Linked DNA regions of Homo sapiens: all the other regions are linked to region 1. Evidence: fine-mapped expression QTL. A gene starts in region 1. Each other region holds a variant in brackets. All regions are shown on one strand. Distances are between the middles of the regions.

Region 1 (4,089 bases):
GCTTGCAAGGGCCCCAAATGCCACACCCAGGTATTGCCATGCCTAGGTAGTGGCCACAGAGAGCTGCTAGAGTTTGTAAACAGAGGATTGAGGCCAGTGGGTAGAGTGGGAAGAAGACAGGAGCATTTCAACCCAGAGAACATCAAGGAGACCAGCAGAGTGAGGAACGATGTGGCCTGAGACAAGGCAGGGAATGGTGAGGTGAGCGTGGGACCATACTTCCCCTTTCTCCATTTTCTCAGACCACTGGCATCTAATCCTACAGACACAGAAGAAAACACCTGGACTCAAAGTCACACACAACTGACAGCAAAGCTCAATACATAGATGGCTCCTAACTCTGCCTTTTCCTGGTCTGGTTTCTGCTGTTGCACTGAAAATGCTACCAGGAGAGCAAGCCCTGAAGCCCAACCTGCCACAGCTGATCAAACACCAAAGCACTGTGTGTACGCTTGGAAGCAGAGGGAGGCAGCAGTGAACAGCTGACACACACACCCAGACTTCCAGGCGGGCCTCAGTAACAGGACAGGTTTGGTTCATTTCCTGCAAAAACAGGATTTCCCAGGCATTAAAGGAAATGTCCTTGCATTCCTCTTAGCCCTGTCCACCAGGATGGACAGGGATCAAGGACCTGGGACATCCTTCCTAATTTACCAGACACTTTATCCCTGAACGTGAGCAACCTACAAAAGGCTCTCCAAGATCCCTCATGCCCCTGTGAATGTTCATCTAGCGCAACTTAGGCAGGAGCCTAGGAAAGCCGTCTGTGTCCCCCACCAACAGAAAATAAGGGAGGCCACCAAGGGTCGCCTAGAATCCTGAAGCTCAGCTCCAACCCCTGGTGCAAAGCACCCCTCCAGCGTAATTCTGGAGGCAATTCTACTACCCCCCACACTAGAAACTGCTTCTTTCAGTAGCAAAAAAAAAAAAAAGAAGAAGAAGAAGAAGAAGAAAAAGTAGGCGGGGCGTGAGGGAGCTGCAGATGGTAGAAGGGAGAGGGAGTAGCGAGATTAAAGTTAGACAGGCCTGGGTTCAAGTCCTACCTCCACCACTGAGTTTACCTTAGATGAGCCATTTTGCCTCTCTGAAAATGTTTTCCTCATCTGTGAAATGATTATAAAAATAAATTATGGGAAACGCTGTCAGAATTCAGAGCGCTATTGTTAGTGTTCAGCATTAGCAGAAAGCCAACAAATGGGAACCACATATTTATTTTATATATATAGTTAAAGAGAGGAAAGAAAATTCCTAAAACATGTACCAGGAAAATCCAGACGAGCACACCCCGGCCCCCCACCCACTCTCCCGGGCAGGGCAGGAGGCACACGGCTGGCTGGGGCGCACCAGGGCACCTGTGCGTGCAGGTGGGGCGGGCGCGCGGCGACAGCAGGTTGGCGATGCCGCCCTGTCGGCCGGCGGGGGAAGGAAGAGGGCGGGAGGGCCCACCTGAAGACGCGCAGCAGCAGGCAGGCGATGAGGAGGGTGGTAAAGGCGAACGCCACGATCACGGCTGCCTTGAGGGTGGGTAGGTCGCGGAGGAGGATGGAAATGCGGGTCACCAAGGCGTCGCCACTGCTGTTGGAGCTGGAGCTGCCGCTGCCGCCCGCCGCCCCAGACCCAAACCGGGTGGTGTTCCCGGGCCCCGGGCCGGGCGGTGGCCGCGACTCGCGCTCGGGTTCGGGCCACGGCGCGGAGACGGACTCGGCTCTGCTGGCGCGGGCGGCGGGAGCGGCCAGGAGCGCGAGCAGCAGCAGCGGCAGGAGCGGGGCGGGCAGCGGCACGGCGCGCATAGTGCGGTGGGTCGGCACAGGATCGGGCAGGGCGCGCGCGGCTGAGCTCCAGGATCCGCACCAGCACGGAGGCCTGCACCGGGGGATCCTGCGGCGGAGGCGGCTGCGCGGTGCTTGGCAGGAAGCTGCGGCGCCCGGAAGAGCCCGCGCCACCGCCGCCGCCACCACCAACACGTTGCAAGGAGTCATTCGACGGGCCGCGGCCCCACGTGGGCGGGGCAGGCCACCCGGCCTGGGTCCCGGCTGCGCTCCGCTCGCCCGCGACCCCAATTCCTCGGGACTTGAGACCCCGTGGTGAAGCAGCAACTGCCACGATGACACTTGGGCTGGCCCTGTGTTACACGTTTCACGTGTTTTATTTATTTCATTTAATTCTACAACCCCCTTTGAAGACAGGTATTCTGTTACCCACATTTGATAGCTGACTTGGCACCCAAAGAGCCAGCTCACAGCAACCCACATTGTGTCAGACTAAGAATCAAAAACTATGGGACCTAGAAGTAGACTCCCATCTTGCAGATCAAAAACTGAAGCCGACAGTGAAGTGGTTGCCTGATGTCCTATGCAACGCATAATTTCAGTATCTCCCCTAATTTCCCTCTTTCTCAAAAGGGGTTTCTTATTTCATGCGCCTCTGCTTACGAACCGGACTGGGATGTGAATCTCTGCCTCTCATACCTTTGTTGTGGAACACCAGTTGGTGTGGTTAATGCCCCCCTGCCTGGCTGAAGTTTCTCCGGGGAATAATTGGCTTGCTGCCTCTGGTTTGTAAGCTAAATGATGCTTAGGTGGAGAAAGACAATTAAGGAAGTTCTAGTGGGAGGCCCAAAGGTGGAAACTGATGGGGACACAGAGCCCCTACCTGAAGTACTAGGAGCCATTCCCAGGGCTTCAGGGTTCCCCTTTTACACTGCAGATGGGTCCTGGCAGGAAGCTTTTCGGTGGTGGGTAAACAGTTAAATACACATGACATGACAAGGTCCCAGGGACCTTAAACAGCCCATTTCTGGTCCTGCTGGAAAAAGAGACAAATATAGTACAGTGTATTAGTTGTCTACTGCAGCATAACAAATTGCCCTAAAACCTAGCTGCTTAAAACAACATGCATTTAGTATCTCACAGTCTGTGGGTCAGGAAACTGACCATAGGTTACCTGGGTTCTCTGCTTCAGAGCCTCTCCCAAAGGTGCAATCAAGGTGTCAGCTGGGGCTGGGGTCTCCTCTGAAGGCTCAACTGGGGAAGGATCTGCTTCCAAGCTCAATCAGCATTTTTTGGCCAGATTCAGCCCTGCACTGGCTGTTGGACTGGAGCCTCAGTTTCCTTGGGGCAGTTGGCCAGAGGTTGCCCTCAGTTCCTTGGCATGGGGCCCTTCCAACATAGCAACTTGCTTCATCAAAGTATGCAAGTCAAGATAGCAATAGAAAGAGTCACCTACCAAGACAGAAGTCACTGTCTTATGAAACCTCATCACAGAAGTGACATTCTCACACCTTTGTCATATTCTATCAGTTAGAAGCAAGTCACAGGTTTTATCCACACTCAAGGAGAAGGAATTACACAACAGTATGAATATCAGGAAGCAGGGATCATTGGGGCCATCCTAGAAGCTGCCTGCCACCTACAGTGTAATTCATTTTGATCTGGGGGGATGGACAACAATCAGATTATCAGAAGTCATCATCCAGAAGGTACTTCTGAAATGCATGTTAAATATGCATTCCATGTTAAATATGCCCCAGTGATAAGAGATATGGATAGATCACATGATTTAGGTCTCTTCTAACTCTGAAATATCACCTTCTGGTATGTTAAAAATGTTGCATTAGTAGAGAGTCAACATCATCATATCAGTATGATAGAATATATAAAAGTAAGTTTTTAAAGAAACACCTCTGATTCCATGATTTTGGAGAACTGTTCTCCAAGGCATAAACCTCAGCTATCACAGCCTCTTATTTTTGTACTTATCAGAAATTCCTGCACGATACAGCAAAGAGGTCCTGGGCTTTGAGCCTCTTAGCCAGGATGAAAGGTTTGACCACTGAATGGCCTTGGCCAAGTATTTAACCACTGAATACCAGGTTTTTAATATCTGAAATAGGCTGGGCGTGGTGGCTACGCCTGTAATCCCAGCACTTTGGGAGGCCAAGGTAAGTGGATCACCTGAGGTCAGGAGTTCGAGACCATGGTGAAACCCCGTCTCTACTAAAAATAAAAATTAGCTGGGTGTGGTGGTGCATATCTGTATTCCCAGCTATTCGGGAGGCTGAGGCAGGAGAATCGCTTGAACCCGGGAGGC
Region 2 (4,089 bases), 120 kb after region 1:
GTGGGGTAAGGTCAGGAGTAACTGGTGACCACAGATATGTGGGCATCACCAGGGGTCCAAGAAGTTTGCAGAACTTCTTGTTCACAATCAGCTACTTGCCAGATGACATAAACCAGGCCACCTTGTGCCTATAAATCTTTAACATAACATCGTTACTTGTATGCATGCTTCCTTGTCCCCTCAGGGATCTGTTTCAAAAAAGAAATAGTGGCCCAGAGCAACGGCTTGTGCTTGTAGTCCCAGCATTTCAGGAAGCCAAGGCAGGTGGATCACTTGCAGTCAGGAGTTGCAGACCAGCCTGGCCAACACAGCGAAACCCTGTCTCTACTCAAAATACAAAAATTAGCCAGGCATCCGGGAGTGGTGGCGCATGTCTGTAATCCCAGCAACTCAGGAAGCTGAGGCACAAGAATCACTTGAACCCAGGAGGTGAGGGTTGCAGCGAGTCAAGATTTCACCACTGCACTCCAGCCTGGGATAGAGCAAGACTTTGACTCAGAAAAAAAAAAAGAAAGAAAGAAAAAGGAAAAGTTTTTTAAAAAAAAGAAATAGTCATCATATCTAAACTGTAAATTATTTTCTTTTCTTTTTTTTTCTTTTTTTGAGACGAAGTCTCGCTCCCAGGCTGGAGTGCAATGGCGCAATCTCAGCTCACTGCAACCTCCGCCTCCCGGGTTCAAGTGATTCTCCTGCCTCAGCCCCCCAAGTAGCTGGAATTACAGGCGCCTGCCACCACGCCTGGCTAATTTTTGTATTTTTAGTTGAGACGGGGTTTTACCATGTTGGCCAGGCTGGTCTAGAACTCCTGACCTCAGGTGATCCACCCACCTTGGCCTCCCAAAGTGCTGGGATTACAGGCATTAGCCACCACACCCAGCCTAAGCTATAAATTATTTTCATGATTATCTCGGCCTATGTGCAGGAATGAGCAAAGGCAGGTAGCTTGTGGGGTTAGAAGCAAGATGGAGATAGCTACCTTAGATTTCTCTGTTACAATATTATTTACTTGAAGCTCCAATTAATTGGAGTCCTGTTTTGTTTTTGCTTCTGTTTTAGAGACAGGATCTCACTATGTTGCACAGGTTGGCCTTGAACTCCTGGCTTCAAGTGATCCTCCTACTTCACACTCTAGTAGCTGGAATTACAGGCACATGACACCACACCTGGCTTGAAGTCCCGTTTTGTTTTGTTTGTTTTGTTTTGTTTTTTCAAGACAGGGTCCTGCTCTGTCAATCAGGCTGGAATCCAGTGGTACAAACACGGCTCACTGCAGCCTTGACCTTCCAAGTCACTGCAGCCTTGGCCTTCCAGGCTCAAGCAGTCCTTCCAAGTAGCTGTGACTACAGGTATACGCCACCACGCCCAGCTGTTTTTTTCCTTTTTTGCAGACACAAGGTCCCACTATGTTGCCTGGGCTGGTCTTGAACTCTTGGGCTCACCCTCCCACTTCGGCCTCCCAAAGTGCTGGGGCTATAGGTATGAGCCACTACACTTGGCAAAGTCCTGTACTTTTACTTGCTAAGTGGTTCATCCTCACACGGGGGGCAAAAATTGAGGAAAGGATTGCAAGACCTTGACTAGAGGATGCATCATCACATCAAAGAAGTCTATGAGAGGCCGAGGCCGGCAGATCACCTGAGGTCAGGAGATCGAGACCAACCTGGCCAACATGGTCTCTACTAAAATCCGTCTCTTCTAAAAATACAAAAATTAGCTGGGCATGGTGGCAGGCGCCTGTAATCCCAACTACTCAGGAGGCTGAGGCAGGAGAATCGCCTGAGCCCGGGAGGCAGAGGTTGCAGTGAGCCGAGATCACACCACTGCACTCCAGCCTGGGCGACAGAGTGAGACTCCATCTCAAAAAAAAAAGTATATATCCCTGAGTTTCTGAATAATCTCTGCATCTGCTCCCAACAAAGCCTGTCACGTAAAGGGCATCATCAGTCCAGATAGATCTACAAACAGCAGCAAAGACAATAAACTAGGTACGTTTAGTTATCCTTCAAAAGGCAGCTCAAATGTCACATCTTCGATGCTTAGCTAACTCTGCCCCAAGCCAAACAAACAGCTCCTCGCTTTGTGTTCTCCAAAGCTCAGTGTCCACGCTGTGAAGCCCGGGCAATCCAAACAGTGAGCCGTGGTTTATGGACCATCGAGGTGGTCGCTCTGCAGTTCTCTGAGCTCTCTGTGTGCAGAGCTCTCACTCTGTTCATCTTTGCAGCCACGGTGTCCGCCACGATGCCAGACTGCGGCCACAGAGGCTCTACAAATGTGTTGTTCAATGAACGAGGGAATAAAGAGTAACTGCTCCTGTTTTAGAAATGGAATAACCAAGGCCCGGAAGTATTAAATCTGATTCAACTTCCTTTTTTTTTTTTTGAGACGGAGTTTCGCTCTTGTTGCCCAGGCTGGAGTCCCAGTGGCGCCATCTCAGCTCGCCGCAACCTCCGCCTCCCGGGTTCAAGTGATTCTCCTGCCTCAGCCTCCCGAGCAGCTGGGATTACAGGCATGC[A/G]CCACCACGCCCGGCTAATTTTTTGTATTTTTAGTAGAGACGGGGTTTCTCCATGTTGGTCAGGCTGGTCTCGAACTCTTGACCTCAGGTGATCCGCCCGCCTCGGCCTCCCAAAAGTGCTGGGATTACAGATGTGAGCCACCGCACCCGGCCCAACTTTCAATTTATACTTTTTTTATGTTTCTATGGGTCTACCACAAACAAGGAAAATGAATGATGCTTCAGAAGTTGGAATGAGAGACCTCGCTGTACAGTGATTGGAAGAGATACCTGCTATGACAGACATTGAACACCATTCTTTCTGGCCTGGGGCCAACACGGCATCAAAGGTGGCAGGTTTCCCTCCTCCACCCAGCTTCTGCCTTGTATGGCGGTGGAACGAGCCTTGGATGGAAAAATCTCCAACTTCTATTCTAACTCTGTGACTGTGGGCAAGTCATTTTGCCTTGGTTTTCTCCTTTTTCAACTGCCAAGGATGATCTAAACTAAGTAATCCCTAAAGTGCCTTGAACTTGCTTCCCTATTCAACAGCACTCGTTGAGGTCCTTCTGTACAGATCTCTCTGCGGATACAAAACAAGACCTAGTCCCTGACCTTCAGGAACTCACAGACTACTGGAAAGACAGAGAAGCAAAAAGCAAATGCCCTGAAGTGTGGCTGATACTTTGCGCACGCACGCACACACACACACACACACACACACAAAAGCAGTTATCACCATTTACTTTTCATTTACAATCACCATGTGCCAGTCACAGTCCCAATTCCCACTGCCACCTTGTGAAACAGTGTCATTTTAATCCTCATTTAGGGAAGTGAAATGACTTCCTCAAGGTCACTCGGCTAGTAAGTGTCCAGAGCTGCTATTGAAATAAATCTGTCTGACTCAAGAACTAGCCCTCGGCTGGGCGCTATGGCTCATGCCTGTAATCCCAGCACTTTGGGAGGCCGAGGCAGGCCTCCCAAAGGATCACCTGAGGTCAGGAGATTGAGACGAGCCTGACCAACATGGTGAAACCCCGTCTCTACTAAAAATACAAAAAAATCAGCCACGTGTGGTGGAGCGTGCCTGTAATCCCAGCTACTCGGGAGGCTGAGGCAGGAAAATAGCTTGAACCCGGGAGGCAGAGGTTGCAGTGAGCTGAGATCTCGCCATTTCACTTTAGCCTGGGCAACAGAGTGAGACTCCATCTCAAAAAAAAAAAAAAAAAAAAGAACTAGCCCTCTTGCAGCCATAAAAAAAGAATGGAATCATGGTCTTTGCAACAACATGGATGCAGCTGGAGGCCATCATCCTAAGCAAATTAATTCAGGAAGAGAAAACCAAAATGCCACATCTTACTTATAAGTGATAGCTAAATATAGAACACACATGGACATAAAGACAGAAACCACAGACACGGGGGTCTACTAGCGGGTGAAAGGAGGGAGGGTGGCGAGGGCTGAACAACTACCCATTGGACACTATGTTCACTGCCCGGCTGACAGGCCCAAGCACACCCCACAACTAGCATCGTGCAATACGCCTTTGTGACAGAACTTCACGTAACCTCAATTCCAAAATAACAGTTGAAAAA
Region 3 (4,089 bases), 26 kb after region 1:
GCCTTTAAGCTGAAGCTAGTTCATCTCTGGTCCCTTATTCACCAGAAGGGGAAGGGTCAACCTTGACCTGCAATGAATGACTCCCATGGCGTTAGTGCCTTTTCTTCTCCTCACAGAAGTGAGCAACAAGGACCAATGCTTCCTTCCTTCCTTTGTATACATTAAATGCAGCAAGATGTATGTCAGAGCATACCTTTATTTGTGTACTACTGTGGATATCGTTTAGAGGACAAATAAGATTTTACATTATGGAAGCTTCTTTTTGTTTTTTTGTTTTTTGTTGTTGTTGTTGTTGAGACGGAGTCTTGCTCTGTCACCCAGGCTAGAGTGCAGTGGCTTGATCTCGGCTCACTGCAACCTCTGCCTCCCGGGTTCACGCCATTCTCCTGTCTCAGTCTCCTGAGTAGCTGGGACTACAGGCGCCCACCACCACGCCCGGCTAATTTTTTGTATTTTTAGTAGCGATGGGGCTTCACCGTGTTAGCCACTATGGTCTTGATCTCCTGACCTCGTGATCCACCCACCTTGGCCTCCCAGAGTGCTGGGATTACAGGCGTGAGCCACCGTGCCCGGCCCGGAAGTTTCTTTTTGTATTACTATCAGTACCACTATCTATCAATACTTCTACCTTCTATATCTTTATTCTGTATGAATATAGATAGAAATATAGATAGATCTGGATATAGATATACATAGGTCTATAGATAAACACACACATACAAGATTATATGAGTATGTCTATATAAATACTTATGTATACAAAGATGTTCTTCCAGAGACATTTTCAGTTCTCCAGCCCATCCTATGGATGCAGACATAGACTTACTTCCCACTTATCTGGCTCCGTACCATCCCCAGAATGGAACACAGCGATACAATGTTATGTATAAACATAACCAAATCTTTACCTTTAGGGATAAGACCTGGAAAGTAAGCTGCCAGTACTGACATGTAACAGCCATCCATTTTCTCGATATCCCATTCCCATTGTTATAGGGAGCTGCACCATTTAAAATATGTAGGATATCTAAAGTGGAGGGATGGTAATTATTATTTGAATCCAAAATGAATGATTTATAAGACTAGCGGAAAGGATTTCAGCCCCCTACTCTAAAACATTGTTCATTGAGCGTTTTTGCCAAGGGTAAGCAGAGTAAATTATCAATAGCAGCAGCAGGTACATAGATCACCTCAGCTTTTCACTCTAACTTTATAATGTATGTGTCAACAAACTCATTATAGGCACATTTTAAAATAAGCTTTCATGATCAAGATGGTAGTGATAGAGAATATGGGATAAACTGAGTTTTCTATGTTCTAAACTGTTGGGCAATGATTGAAAAAAAAAGAATGTAAATGTCAGGTTTTTTTATTTAACCCAAATATTTGATGAGGAAAACCTGTTATTTAAACCATGTAAAGTTTTAATCTGTATATATTAGACAAGTGCTTAAAGTACTATAGTAATGCAAGTGCATTAATAAATTCTAAGTTTTATTCAATTCTGAAAAAATACATACAAGCCATCAGGCAATTTTGTTTATCAAATTTCATTAAGAAAAGATAGTATCTCCACTAATTGTTGATACATGCTGGTAGGCTGGTCTTCCCGCCTCCCCCCTCAACATGTGTACTGAAATGCTAATAAATGAATCATCAACAGTAATTACAAATATTCTGGGGATGTGATTTCACAGCTCCCATTTTCAGGAAATTGCATATTTTTGCTCTGTTTGGGTGAAAGCATGTTTATAGTAACAACTTAGTAATAAAAGCCATCTTTGAAAACTATTCTGGTTTTTTTATGTGACTGCAGGGATTTTTCTCACGGCTGACAGCTAAGATTTTAAATAACATTTGTAAAACTTGGACAGATTTTCTG[T/C]TCTGCTTGGAAGTGGGTGATTTCACAATCCCCCTTAGTGACATCATGCTTAACAGAACTGCAATGAAAGCGATCCAGCCCCCTGTGCTCATTCCTCACTGTGGCTGAAAGATGGTTACAGCTGTGGAAATGGAGCTTGATTTCCCTATACCAGCAGCTTTGATTCTCTGCTTTCAGCACTTTTTCCCCTGTGATTATAAGCGGGAGGATAGTTTTGAATATGAACTACTAGAGTGCATGTAAAGTTGAATTGTGGAATTATAGTTTTAGAAATTACTTTCAGCCGGGCACGGTGGCTCAAGCCTGTAATCCCAGCACTTTGGGAGGCCGAGGCGGGCGAATCATGAGGTCAGGAGTTTGAGACCAGCCTGGCCGCCAGAATGGTAAAACCCCGTCTCTACTAAAAATACAAAAAATTAGCCGGGCATGGTGGCACGCGCCTGTAGTCCCAGCTACTTAGGAGGCTAAGGCAGGAGAATTGTTTGAACCCGGCAGGCGGAGGTTGCAGTAAGCCGAGATCGTGCCACTGCACTCCAGCCTGGGTGACAGAGCAAGACTCTGTCTCAAAAAAAAAAAAAAAAAAAAAAAAGGAAAGAAATTACTTTCAATGTCTACTAGCAATGCCCTACCACCACCACTATCTCCACAAAATATGTAACAGATGAAGTACAGGAAGAATTGTCAGGTATTTCAAAGCATGCATTAAGCACCTACTCTATCCCTACCTTAGTGAAAGGAGATTTGGCCTCATTGTGACATGTAATCTTCCCAGTCGTCTTTTGAGATGGCTAATGGCAATTAACACCAAAGTCCCAATAATAGCTATTGAGAAAGTATATTACAGGGGTTAAGGACTTGGTCTTGAGTCATAAACCCTGTCTTTTTTTAAAATTTTTATTTCCACAGGTTATTGGGGAACAGATGGTGTTTGGTTACATGAACAAGTTCTTTAGTGGTAATTTGTGAGATTTTGGTGCACCCATCACCTGAGCAGTGTACACTGAACCCAATTTGTAGTCTTTTATCCCTCACCCCCTTCGCACTCTTTCCCTGAGTCCCCAAAGTCCATTGTGTCATTCTTATGCCTTTGCATCCTCAGAGCTTAGCTCCCACTCATGAGTGAGAACATACGATGTTTGGTTTTCCATTCCCGAGTTACTTCACTTAAAGTAAGAGTCTCCAATCTCATCCAGGAGAAACCCTGTCTTTAAACTCAGTTCTGCCACCTTAGTTGTGTGACTCTACTTTCTTAACCTCTCTGTGTTTGGGTCTCCTTGTCTGTAAAATAGGAGTAATAATAGGCAGTTGTAGGGATTAAACCAGATAACGCAGGCAGCACACTCTATCAGTTACAAATTATTGTCAGCTGCAAAAACACATAAGGTTTTATTTTTCTCAAGTAAAAAAAAATTCCAGAATTGTGCAAGCTGCTGCTGATGGTTCAGCAGCTCCAGGAGTTCACATCACAGACTCCAGGCCTTTTCCTCATGGCCCCAAGAATGGCCACACTGTTGTCCAGCTGTCAGGTCCAAATTCCTGGCAGGAAGTAGGACAAAAGGGCGAGCTTCACAACTCAGTCAGCCCAGCCCTTGAGGGGCCTTCCTAGAAGACCCTCTATCACCTCACTTCCCTCTCTCTCCCCCAAACTCCCACATGGCTTCCGGCTTGTCACTCCACTGACATGGCTCTAAGCTTAGTCATGATTCCACATTGCTAAATTTCACAGACATGTTCCTCCTCTTCCTTGACCTCCCTTTCTCAGCAGAGCAAGAGCCCCTTCTTGAAATACGCCCTTCTTGTGGCCTCCATGACACTGCACTCTTCTGCCTCTCTTCCTGGCTCTTTGCCCCCACATCCATCTCCTTTGCATATTCATTCTCCTCAGCGCCAAGACCGGCTTCTTTGCTCCCACGGCTTCCCTTCTTAGACCATCTCAGCACCTCCACCTTCATTTCCACCTACATGCTGATGATACCAACTTCCCCTCCAGGCCACACCTCTCCTCTGAACTCCAGACCTGGGTATCCCTCCCTTACCCACTCAAGTCTTCATGGCCTTGTTTCCAAGGCTTCTCACACTCAATATATCCAAGAGTGTTTGTGATCCCCCTGCCCGTAAACATACAAACAACAACTCCATCAGACTTCAAAAGCCTGGCCCCGTCCGCTTGTTCCCCCACCAAGGGAATGGCACCATCTGCTGTCCAG
Region 4 (4,089 bases), 30 kb before region 1:
ACACAGGAACACCTGTTGCAGCACCTGTCAGTAGCGTCTGGCACCCTGGCAGCTGACGTCTCAGTGCAGCCGGCAAGGACACTCTGGGAAGAGGACGCAGTGGCCTTATGAGTGAACGACGGAGAAGCCGGAGGGAGGAGGCCTGGCCTGTCTGTGAGTATGTCTGAGACAGAGAAACGTGTGGACACCACCACCACGTGACAGGGAAGCCCCTGGCAGTTCTACTGCTTCCATCCAGGGACACACAAGAAAAGAACATCTGAAAAACATGGCTTGCTTTTGCAAAAGCATTGATACTTAGGATGATTTGTGTTGTTCATCTTTCCTTCCTTCCTTCCCTCTTTTCTTTTTCTTTCTTTCTCTTTCCTTTTTGTTTATTTGATCAGATTCCTGTTCACGTAGGCTCCATCCTCATAGACATAGACACAAGAATTTTTAAGGTGCCCTGGCTTTGAGTGAGACACCCTAAATGAAAATTGCCCGCAGGCTGCCAATATTGCTTTCCAAAGAAACAAAAATTCTCCATGAGATGCCCATTTTTAACACATATCCTCTGCATTCTGCAAGGAAGAGGACTGGCAGAGGTTTATTCACACTGGTCTGGGGATGGCTTCTGATGCTGTTTCAGATACAGTTACCCTGCAGGTCACCGGCTCCTCTCTGGTTCCTTCCAGGCCTTGGAAGCTAATGATGCCCATTGTTTCTATACCCACCGCCCAGGCAGCTGTCCATCTGCCGATGCTCCTAACAGTTCGCCCTCAGAAGACCACGAGGAAGCCTGGGGTGCCTGGCCATTCAGAGGTCCTCAGTAAGTAGAAGCAGCTCCAAGAAGTCACTGCCTTGAGTGTGCTTAGCAACTGCCATGAGGGCGTCCATGGGGACTCAGAGCTCCCGGGTAGCAAGCCAGGTCTGTTTTCCCATACTCCCTGCCTACCCTGCAGAGGCCTCATGCTGCAAACTGCACAAAAATGCCCTTTGTTTCCAAGACAAGACACCAGCCAAAGCCCGCAGCATTACAGTGGAAATCTCGTGGGTTTCTAATTATACTCCCAAAGGAAGCCCTACCCACAAGAGGGTGGGAAGCAGGGATTTCTAGAATGAACGTCCACACCCCCACGGGGCCACATCCTTTCCACACATAAGAAGCCGGGACAGGGACCTCCCTCTTGGTGGGGAGGCAGGGCTGGCAGGAGCAGCGCGTTCTCCCAGCAGTGTGCCTTTGGGCTGCGCCTGTCACAGCTGCCGGGCCGCCTGCCACACACACGGGAGGAAAAGCCCACATCTGTCTCTTCCTGGAGGACGCCTAGAGGGTGTAACAAAGTCTTCTGTAATAAACCGGGAATGCAAAGAGGCCCAGAGCATCCACACAACTGCACACTAGGCAACAAAGCTCAAAACACATGCAGCCGAAACCCAAACGCCTCTTGAAAGAACCATTTCAAAACCCCAGGGCACTCTTGTACTCTGGTTAGCTATCATTTCTTCTTTCTAATTAGTCTTTTTAAGTACAGAGTTAGAGATTCATTTCTATAGAACTCCCTCCCTCCCTCCCCAAACTCTGGCCCTACGCACTCAAGGTCTTATCTCCTACCCTGCCTGTATTCTTCCTCCTTCATTTCCTACCTGGCTGAAAACTTCGAGAAAAAAAAGCCTGTCTGATAGGCACAGGCTCTAAGTCACAAGATGTTACCAGAGAGTTACCTGGGAAATAAGAAGCAGGTTACTCTGCCTTACTGCCCTGGTGCCAAAAACATGATTTTCCTCTTTCCACCCAATCACAAAATAACCCAAAGCCATGATTCATCTGATTTAAATGTAGTCTGTTTCCTAGAGAGAACTGAAACATTTGGTTGAGTTATGTCTAAATGGGAAAAACAAGTACCTGTGAACAGATTAGCCATGTGCAGACAAAGAAGTTCACAAAAACACTAAACCAAACATGCAACGTCTGAAACTCTTTGTTCTTTCACACCTATTGGCCTGAAAAGTTGCTCATGATTCATTGTTTGGGTAGAAAAACGTGCCAAAACAGCATGTATAATACAGTCTTATTTCTATAAAAAACAAAGTTTCACATCTATATACTCACACACTCTAGTGGTTACT[G/A]TTAAGTAGTGAGATGACAAGTAACTGTGTCTTTCCTGTTTATTATCTGTATTTTCTACAGCTTAACATTACCTCTGTAATAAGAAAAGCCAGCACTACTTAGTCTTTCCGAACAGTCAGTCATCTTTAGGCCTGAGGACTGCAGTGGGCTTGTGTCTAATGACTCACTTCCAAGTTCACTCACATTCTGATTTTATTTCAACCACAAACAGCACAAACTTCTCAAGGAAGGGAAGCAGAAAAGGCAAAAGCAAAGCAAAAGAAGAGATAAAACGTTTAAGGACTTGGGAGCAGGGACAGGGACTCTTCTTAGTCCCAGATGACGTATCTACACAGAAAACCCAAAGATTCCACATTTATCCTACAAGAATTAATAAAAGTTTAGCAAGGTTGCTGGATTTTTTTTTTTTTTTTTTTTTGAGACCAGGCCGGAGTGCACTGGCGCGATCTTGGCTCACTGCAATCTCTGCCTCCTGGGTTCGCGCCATTCTCCTGCCTCAGCCTCCCAAGTAGCTGGGACTACAGGCGCCAGCCACCGTGCCCGGCTAATTTTTTGTATTTTCAGTAGAGACAGGGTTTCACCGTGTTAGCCAGGATGGTCTCGATCTCCTGACCTCGTGATCCGCCCGCCTCGGCCTCCCAAAGTGCTGGATTATAGGCGCGTGCCACCGCACCCAGCCAGTTGCTGGATTTTTTTTAAAAAAATCAGTATCTTTTAAAAATAACTGCAATAAACAAAAAGTTTAAAAATAATATTTTTTAAGAGACATCAAAGTCATGAATCATGAGATGGCGGCTTGCAGAGAAATCTGTTTTTGACACTGTCCCCAGAATGACAGCAGAGAGAAGCTGGCAGCCCTAGAAGCAGAAACCCAGGCATGGAGACTGGTCAGTGGGACAAAGGGGTTCTTTACGGCCGATGGTCTGGAGCGGGAAACTTATACAGAGGGATTTGCAGGGTCCTGAGTTTCTGCCTAGAATAGGGGCAGAGGAGACACTACTAAGGTGCTTCAGGGAGCTAACACTATTCCTGTATTAAAAACCACCAAGTGCTGGCCGGGCGCCATGGCTCACACCTGTAATCCCAGCACTTTGGGAGGCCGAGGCGGGTGGATCACGAGGTCAAGAGATCGAGACCATCCTGGCCAACATGGTGAAACCCCGTCACCACTAAAAATACAAAAAATGAGCTGGGCATGGTGGCACATGCCTGTAGTCCCAGCTACTCAGGAGGCTGAGGCAGGAGAATCGCTTGAACCCGAGAGGCAGAGGTTGCAGTGAGCCAAGATAGTGCCACTGCACTCTGGCCCGGGCGGCAGAGCGAGACTCCATCTCAAAAAAAACAAAAAAACAAAAAAAAAACCACCAAGTGTTGAAGGGCCCCGCACTATCGCTGTGTCAGATAGAGATGGAATGCACATCATTAAAGTGGCCAACGAAAATGACCCAGAGCGTGCCCGGAGACCAGGTGTCTCACTAACTTTTGCCCTCGCAACACGCCAGCCAGCAAGCCAACCTGGACTTTCAAAACACAAGCTTGGACTTATCTGTTAACTTTAACACCTACCAGGTGGTTTACCTTTAGTAGTTTGTTTGTTTCACAGCCAGCAGCAATGCCAATATGGCAGTCATTGTCAGCCTAGAAAAGGAACTCGCTCCATTATTTGAAGAACTGAGACAAGCTGTGGAAGTTTCTTAATGTGACACTCGTTTCAACGTGTGCCTTATCTTCATCATACCAGACACAATGTCAATCCAGCAACCAGGCCACAATAATATGGACGTCTATGCCCTCAGGGAAAGGCCCCTTTTCCCACCTTCTAGGAAACAGCCTATAAAGAGAATTTCTGAGCAGATTGATTGTCATATTTCCTTGTTTAGGGTCTTCTCTTATTCAGTGGGATGTGGAGACACCACAAAAATAGTTCTGTCTATCATGCTTCCCACGGAGTTAGTTCAGTCACCAAAGATTGATGAGACGCT
Region 5 (4,089 bases), 130 kb after region 1:
GGCCTCCCAAAGTGCTGGGATTACAGGTGTGAGCCACCGCTCCCAGCCTGCAAACATTTTGATACAAAATACTTTTCAGCAATAATATTTTATAGACCTTTTGTGAGAAGAATATTAGTATAGTCCTAAGAAATACAATATTCAAGTCTTTTTTTTTTTTTTTTTGAGATGGAGTTTCACTCCTGTTGCCCATGCTGGAGTGCAATTGTGTGATCTCGGCTCACCACAACCTCCGCATCCTGGGTTCAGGTGATTCTCCTGTCTCAGCCTCCCGAGTAGCTGGGATTACAGACATGCACCACCACGCTTGGCTAATTTTTTATATTTTTAGTAGAGATGGGGTTTCTCCATGTTGGTCGGGCTGGTCTCAAACTCCCAACCTCAGGTGATCTGCCCGCCTCAGCCTCCCAAAGTGCTGGGATTACAGGCATGAGCCACCACGCCTGGCCTCAAGTTATCTTACGCAGGTCAGGTACTGGTTACGCACGTCCGTGTAAAGAGACCACCAAACAGGCTTTGTGTGAGCAATAAAGCCTTTTAATCATCTGGGTGCAGGCCGACTGAGTCCAAAAAAGGAGTCAGCAAAGGGAGATGGGGTGGGCCAGTTTTATAGGATTTGGGTAGGTAGTGGAAAATTACAGTTAAAGGGGGTTTTTCTCTTGTGGGCAGGGGCAGGGGTCACCAGGTGCTTGGTGGGGAGCTCCTGAGACTCAGTCCAGGAGAAGGAATGTCACGAGGTCAGTTGTTCAGTTAGGGTGGAGCAGGAACAAATCACAAGGGTGGAATGTCATCAGTTAAGGCAGGAACTGCCTATTTTGCTTCTTTTGTGGTTCTTCAGTTGCTTCAGGTCATCTGGATGTATACATGCAGGTCACAGGGGTTATGATGGCTTAGCTTGGGCTTAGAGGCCTGACAGTGCCCTTGTTAAAATGAGTTAGAACCTACATAATCCCAGTAGCATTGCCTCTTTAAATGTACAGCATATCTATGATATTCAAAATAAACACAGACATGGGATTGATCTAAATTTTACTTTACAGGTAAAAGAAAATTACAATTCAGCATGAGAACATTCTTCATAAGTTTTACCTATGGCCCCAATGATAATTAGGCCAACTGTATCCTGAGTGTATATGAATGTGTGAATACATACACATACTAATGTATACAAACCAATTCACACAACACGACTCTCCAGAGATGTTGCTTGAAGCACCAGAGAGTAATTTCTTTATTTTTAGTTTTGAAGAGACAGGGTCTCACTAGGTTGCCCAGGCTGGTCTTGAACTCCTGGCCTCAAGTGATCCTTCTGCCTCAGCCTCCCAAAGTGCTGGGTTTACAGGTGGGAGCCACTACACCTGGCCGCCTTTTGTATTTTTTAAAGCTTGAAGCACATATGTGTATTACTTATTAAAAATTTAACAAAGAATTTTAAAAAGAGAAAGAAAGGCCTTTTAGAGGATAGGTCATTTTAGGACTCCCTGGTTCCAAGATATAACTCAATTGTCCTGTAATGAGATAGATACTTCCTGAATCTATTGGGGTTTAAGATTAAAAAAAAAAAAAAAAAAGAC[G/A]TTCTCTTATTCAGACCCATTTATATAGTTCTCATTGCCTTTTCTCATTATGCTCCTGAGGCTCATTTGAAGCTAACACTCAAGCACCAGTGACATCTGGTAACATGGGTAACCCTGGGCAACCAGCTTCTCTCATAGTTGTCATAGCAACAATGATGTTCTGACAGCTGAGTTTTCATCGTGAAGTAATTATCAAGCTTTGGGGAGGGCTCCTCCATGTTTGCAGTTGTTTACGTCAATGAGGTTTATGAATGAACCTCAATTAGATGCAATTTTGATTGAAGTGTTAAGAGAGGCTGTGAATTGAGTCAGATTTACATATCCTTCCACCCAGCCTGGCAAATCTGGTGAATTGTAGGCCTGGTGCAATTCAGAGAGGGGGTGTGACTTGCACTTCAGCCATCAAAAGCCACTGGATATGCGAGGCTTGGTGGCTCATGCTTGTAATCCCAGCACTTTGGGAGGCTGAAGTGATCACCTGAGGTCGGGGGTTCGAGACCAGCCTGGCCAACATGGCGAAACTCCGTCTCTACTAAAAACACAAAAAAAGGCCAGGCACAGTGGCTCACACCTGTAATCCCAGCACTTTGGGAGGCCGAGGTGGGCGGATCACCTAAGCTCAGGAGTTCGAGACCAGCCTGACCAACATGGTGAAACCCTGTCTCTACTAAAAATACAAAAATTAGCAGGCATGGTGGCACACGCCTGTAGTCCTAGCTACAGGGGAGGCTGAGGCAGGAGAATCCCTTGAACCCAGGAGGCAGAGGTTGCAGTGAGCTGAGGTCACGCTACTGCACTCCAGCCTGGGCAACAGAGTGAGACTCCATTTCAAAAAAAAAAAAAAAATTAGCTGGCTGTGGTGGACATGCCTGTAATCCAAGCTACTCGGGAAGTTGAGGAATGAGAATCTCTTGAACCTGGGAGGCGGAGGCTGCAGTGAGCCGAGACTGCACCACTTCACTCCAGCCTGGGCAACAGAGCAATACTCTGTCTCAAAAATAAATAAATAAAAATGTTTTTTTAAAAAGCCACTGGAAGGCTGAAGACCTGGCACGTTCCAACCTGAGATGAACAGTTTCTTCTCTATCCTCTGTTCCCCCACCCAACCACAAGTAGCAGGAACAGACCCAGCAGGTCCTTGATTTCAACCCAGCATATAAAACAAAAGTTCTGATTTGTCAAAACTTTGTAAAACCCATATGTCTATATAATTAGCCCCATTTCACACTGGCGAAACCTCGGGTTTAGACTGCTCAGACTCTTTCCGCTGGACAGCAGTGAAGTCAGGACTCACAGCCACATCTCAGCTTCTTCCACTTCTGCCACCTGCTCAGAGCCAGGAATAAATATTTCTTTGGGTTATCTGGAAAGTGACACTGAGCCTTTCTTACGTCCACAAGCCTTTGTTAAAAGAACAAGTGCTTCTGCATCTATCAGCCAAAGTCAGTAGAAGTGGCTTGGTTCTGGCAGCCAAGAACCCAGCTTGTTGGTGACAAGCTCCTGGTGACACATATGAACTCTTAACCTCTGATTTGAGTGAGGAATTGTAACCAAGTGCCCCTCATTTTTCTAAGAGATAGTTTGTTTCTCTCCCTTCTTTTCTCATTCCCCTGGTTCCCCACTTCCCACTTAGTCCCTTAGAAATGCAAATATAGGCCAGGTGCGGTGGCTCACGCCTGTAATACCAGCACTTTGGGAGGCCGAGGCAGGTGGATCACCTGAGGTCAGGAGTTCGAGACCAGCCTGACAAAAATGGTGAAACCCTGTCTCTACTAAAAATACAAAAAATTAGCCAGGTGTGGTGGCGCATACCTGTAATCCCAGCTACTCAGGAGGCTGAGGAAGGAGAATCACTTGAACTCGGGAGGCGGACAGTGCGGTGAGCCGAGATTGCACCATTGCACTCTAGCCTGGGCATGAAGTGTGAAACTCCCTCTCAAAAAAAAAAAAAAAAATGTCCGGGCGCGGTGGCTCACGCCTGTAATCCCAGCACTTTGGGAGGTCGAGGCGGGCGGATCACGAGGTCAGGAGATTGAGACCATCCTGGCTAACACGGTGAAACCCCATCTCTACTAAAAATACAAAAAATTAGCCGGGCCTGGTGGCGGGCTCCTGTAGTCCCAGCTACTTGGGAGGCTGAGGCAGGAGAATGGCGTGAACCCAGGAGGCAAAGCTTGCAGTGAGCCGAGATCACGCCACTGCACTCCAGCCTGGGCGACAGAGCGAGACTCCTCCGTCTCAAAAAAAAAAAGAAAAAAAAGAAAAGAAAAGAAAGTTAACAGTAGCTTCAAACAATAGCCAAGGAAGTTAGAGTCACAAGGTGTTGGTTCCCTACGTAACAACTTAACATATGTCCCTGAGTTTTTCAGAACTCCCACCAAATGGATCCGCTGGCACGTAGACCTCAGCTAAGGGGCAAACTGAGGACTGCACTTTGACTACCATTCTTTGTCCTGAAGTTCTTCCTGAGAGGCCTGGAGGAAGTCACACCCACAAGGCAGTGCTCACATCTTCT
Region 6 (4,089 bases), 110 kb after region 1:
CACATCTAGGAGCCTACTGAACCCAGCAACTCCAGAAGGGCCCCTCTCAAAGCATCAGGGCTTCTGCCTGAGACTCTCCCTCCAGCCACTGGGCAGCTTTTTAACCACCCTAGAGCCCTCTCCATGCCTTGGACCAAATAGAAATAAAGCTTTTTGCAACAGCAAAAAAACAGGGAGGTGAGGGAGAAGAAAAGAAAAAACAAAAAAGTAATAGCAACGCCTCATGTTTACTCTGTTGGATAATCCAGAGTTAATACTTTTTGTTGATGAGTCCTACGCCAAAAATTTGGAAGGAAAATAATAGGTAAGATGTGCCATTCCCACCCAAAATGAGTTACTAGAGAAGGGAGCTCTTCCTCAATTTAAGGCAGCTCAACCTAAGGAGATTTTGCTCTCATCCAAGCTTGTTATATAGCTAATGACAAGTTGGTAAATATTTATGCGGATAATGTATATCTTTCTTGAGTAGTATGTGATTTTTTGCATGTTAAAGAAACAATAAAGATTTCTCACTTCTAGTGGGAGCCCCATCAAAAATGGACTCCAATTAGATGAATTTTTTTCTGCTTTCCTGTTACTGTCACAGATTGCCATTATTAAGATTGAAGCCCATACTGTAAAACTAAACTGAATATCAAGGAACTGCCGTAGCAGATTTTAATGCTAAATCAGCTAGTGCTGAAACTGTTGGCATATACAATTTGGATGAACTCCATAAGATTAATACGAGTCAACTACTCCCTTTTGATGACCTATTTAATAAACAGTTTAATGCACCTAATTTGGAAAAACAAAATTGATATCTAAAAGTATATACAAAAATTAGCTGGGCATGGTGGCACCTGCCTGTAATCCCAGCTACTCCGGAGCCTGAGGCAGGAGGATCACTTGAACCCGGGAGACAGAGGTTGCAGTGAGCTGAGATCACATCACTGCACTGTAGCCTGGGCAATACAGCGAGACTCCTTCTCAAAAATAAATAAGTAAAAGTATATAAATTAAATGTGAAGCACAGTCTCACAGAGGGCCTGGATGGCCACCTAGTCCTACATGAGTCTTTAAAGCTTCCATTGTTAAAAGCTCTGCACTTCATAACTCATCATGGAACAGAAAAAATGTTCCAGGCCAGGCACCGTGGCTCATGCCTGTAATCCCAGCACTTTGGGAGGCCGAGAAGGGTAGATGGCCTGAGGTCAGGAGTTCAAGACCAGCCTGGCGAACGTGGTGAAACCCCATCTCTACTAAAAATACAAAAATTAGCCAGGCACAATGGCACATGCCTGTAGTCCCAGCTACTCAGAAGGCTGAGGCAGGAGAACCACTTGAACCTGGGAGGCAGAGGCTGCAGTGAGCCAAGATGGCGCCACTGCACTCCAGCCTGGGTGACAGAGAGAGAATCTGTCTCCAAAAAAGAAAAAATGTTCCAAATTATTAAAAAGTATGGGTGGGGCAACTATTCTAAAATTGCTAAAACACTGGTTTATAACCAATGTTTGGTTTATCAAACTCATAGTCCTGGGAAAACAATCAAAACTTCAGGGGGTATATTTCCACCACCTAATGCACCATTTGGAGATTTACAGATAGACTTCATTCAGTTGGCACCCTCAATGGGGTATCAGTATGTTCCTGTCATAGCTGTATGTTTTCAGGTTGGGTAGAGGCTTTTCCATGTAGGAAAGTCAAGTTGTGACAGTAGCTAAAAAATTATTAGAAAATCTGTTTTCTCTACAGGGCATCCCTGGAGAAGTCTGTAGCAATAGGAGACTTCATTTTACTGGGCAAGTTATAAAGCAGTTAAATAAGGTGTTACAGACACACTCCCATTGTTCCTATCACTCTCAGCCTCCTGGAAAGGTTGAAAGAACAAATGGCATCTTAAAACTTAAATTGGCAAAGTTAACTGAGTCAAATCGATTACCTTGCCCAAAGATACTATCATTAGCTTTAATGGCAATCAGATCCATTCCCACTGGAAAACATAAGTGGACCCCTGATAAAGTAGTCACTAGAAGGCCCATAGCCCTAATAATAGAACTTTCTGCATCTCCTGCTCTCCTTAACTCTCATGTGACTAAATACTGCAAGGTTTTAATGCATTATGCCAAAGTGTATTTTCAACAGGTAAAGACATTCTTACTGACCCATCAACTGAGGACAATCAAACCTTTCAAAGTCTCAAATCTAGAGATTGGGTCATCTGGAAATGACATCAGAGGAAGACCCCCTGATCTTGTTGGAAGGAACTGTACAAATTTCTTCTCACCACCCACAATGCAGTGAAGCTTCAGGGCCTTGAATGTTATGTCACAGCTCAAAAGGGCCTGCTCAGATTCTTGGAACTGTACACTGGTTGGCAAGTTTAAGGTAAAGGTAACAAGAGAAATTTCTCCCCAGAAGCAGATGGCATACTAGACTTGGAAAGTTTTCCCAAAATTAGGCAGCAAAACTTCTCTGCC[A/G]TCATGAAAGACTTATGCCTTTTTCTTTTTTCCTCATTTCCTCCTGTCCTAATATTTTCCTTTTTCCTACAGGAAAATCTGTAGGACCATAATCAAGCTTTAGCTCAAGCTAATGCCCTAGCACAAAACCAGAGCAATTGTTGGGTTTATGGGCTAATGGCAAAAAAATCAGAAAACAATTCAATTAACACTAATGCCTCTCTGTGTTCTCAATGAGAGCCACCTTAAAATGTTAAAGGAAGAGCAGAAAGCTATCCTTGATATTCTAAACATCATGGCTAATGGATTTCCTGCACTCGCTACAAACAACACTCTAACTTTTCCAATTAATAAGCTAATAATTACTAAATATAGAAAACCCGCCTGAGGCCAGGCGCGGTGGCTCACACCTGTAATCCCAGCACTTTGGGAGGCCGAGGCGGGCGGATCATAAGGTCAGGAGATCGAGACCATCCTGGCTAACACGGTGAAACCCCGTCTCTACTAAAAATACAAAAAATGAGCTGGGCATGGCAGCAGGCTCCTGTAGTCCCAGCTGCTGGGGAGGCTGAGGCAGGAGAATGGCGTGAACCTGGGAGGCGGAGCTTGCAGTGAGCCGAGATCACACCACTGCACTCCAGCCTGGGTGACAGAGAGAGACTCCGTCTCAAAAAAAAAAAAAAAGAAAACCCGCCTGAGTGATGCCTGCAAAAGGTATATTGTGCTTCCAGGCATCACACACTCAAGATCTGGGAACTTGTACTTATGTGTGTACAATTAATTGTACTTACGTGTGTACAAGTAATTGCTTGTATAATGTTACTGGATTAAATCCAGTGGGATCCTTTTTTACTAAATGTGTTAATACAGTAAGTCCTCACTTAACATTGTTGATAGGTTCTTGGAAACTGCAACTTTAAGCAAAATGCAATGTACAGCAGATACTCAAATAATGTCATTTTGTTCAGCCTCATTTCATTATAATGTTGATGAGAAAAAAATTGGTTTTCTTAGAGTCATTTTGCTTAAAGTTGCAGTTTCCAAGAACCTACCAATGATGTTAAATGAGGATTTACTGTACACCCTTACAGAATGTTATAAAGGGGTCACAAAAAAAGTGGATTTCCCACTGCACCTTGTTCAGAAGCTACGCAGATTTGTGGGTGAAGAAATTTAAGTGATGCTGCTCAAACACAACCAGGTGGCCCTCTTTGAAAACTCCTGAGGGCCTATATTGGGTCTGTGGAGCATCTCCTTATTTCATTCTGCCTTTTTTTTCTTTTTTTTTTTTTTTTTAATTTATTTTTTTTTATTGATCATTCTTGGGTGTTTCTCGCAGAGGGGGATTTGGCAGGGACATAGGACAATAGTGGAGGGAAGGTCAGCAGATAAACAAGTGAACAAAGGTCTCTGGTTTTCCTAGGCAGAGGACCCTGCGGCCTTCCACAGTGTTTGTGTCCCTGGGTACTTGAGATTAGGGAGTGGTGATGACTCTTAACGAGCATGCTGCCTTCAAGCATCTGTTTAACAAAGCACATCTTGCACCGCCCTTAATCCATTTAACCCTGAGTGGACACAGCACATGTTTCAGAGACCACAGGGTTGGGGGGTAAGGTCACAGATCAACAGGATCCCAAGGCAGAAGAATTTT

Direction of the effects. Positions count from the first base shown, and alleles are read on the strand shown. Sizes are in standard deviations (SD) of each study's normalised expression. Not every link is listed here.
For the expression in cerebellar hemisphere of the gene that starts at base 1,906 in region 1, A is the low allele of the variant in region 5 and G is the other (small effect, 0.29 SD a copy in GTEx).

Evidence for each region. PIP is the estimated chance that this variant, and not a neighbour inherited with it, causes the effect. A credible set is the group of variants that fine-mapping cannot tell apart.
Region 2: its variant is the best candidate, but not a certain one, in a credible set for the expression of FAM174B in whole blood (INTERVAL, PIP 0.63).
Region 3: its variant is the best candidate, but not a certain one, in a credible set for the expression of FAM174B in skeletal muscle (GTEx, PIP 0.86).
Region 4: its variant is the best candidate, but not a certain one, in a credible set for the expression of FAM174B in whole blood (TOPMed, PIP 0.88).
Region 5: its variant is the best candidate, but not a certain one, in a credible set for the expression of FAM174B in cerebellar hemisphere (GTEx, PIP 0.67).
Region 6: its variant is the best candidate, but not a certain one, in a credible set for the expression of FAM174B in tibial artery (GTEx, PIP 0.62).

The regions. Positions count from the first base shown.
Region 1 is chr15:92,653,870-92,657,958 of GRCh38, forward strand. FAM174B (family with sequence similarity 174 member B) reads right to left here and starts at 1,906. Exons shown (of 3, transcript NM_207446.3): 1 at 1,447-1,906. The coding sequence starts at 1,790. RefSeq lists silencers at 1,283-1,352, 1,403-1,452, 1,553-1,752, 2,033-2,082.
Region 2 is chr15:92,770,721-92,774,809 of GRCh38, forward strand. No RefSeq gene overlaps it. Among named protein-coding and RNA genes, the nearest start is that of CHASERR, 110 kb to the right of the region's middle. The variant A/G (reference allele first, on the strand shown) is at 2,513.
Region 3 is chr15:92,679,578-92,683,666 of GRCh38, forward strand. No RefSeq gene overlaps it. Among named protein-coding and RNA genes, the nearest start is that of FAM174B, 26 kb to the left of the region's middle. RefSeq lists a silencer at 3,862-4,089. The variant T/C (reference allele first, on the strand shown) is at 1,883.
Region 4 is chr15:92,623,611-92,627,699 of GRCh38, forward strand. The region is part of intron 2 of FAM174B (family with sequence similarity 174 member B); the gene reads right to left. LOC124903559 (a long non-coding RNA gene) reads left to right here. Exons shown (of 3, transcript XR_007064768.1): 1 at 1-153; 2 at 675-808. Among named protein-coding and RNA genes, the nearest start is that of FAM174B, 30 kb to the right of the region's middle. The variant G/A (reference allele first, on the strand shown) is at 2,107.
Region 5 is chr15:92,779,242-92,783,330 of GRCh38, forward strand. LOC101926994 (a long non-coding RNA gene) reads right to left here. Exons shown (of 3, transcript XR_001751667.3): 3 at 825-985. Among named protein-coding and RNA genes, the nearest start is that of CHASERR, 100 kb to the right of the region's middle. The variant G/A (reference allele first, on the strand shown) is at 1,575.
Region 6 is chr15:92,763,742-92,767,830 of GRCh38, forward strand. It overlaps the pseudogene FTLP20. Among named protein-coding and RNA genes, the nearest start is that of FAM174B, 110 kb to the left of the region's middle. The variant A/G (reference allele first, on the strand shown) is at 2,460.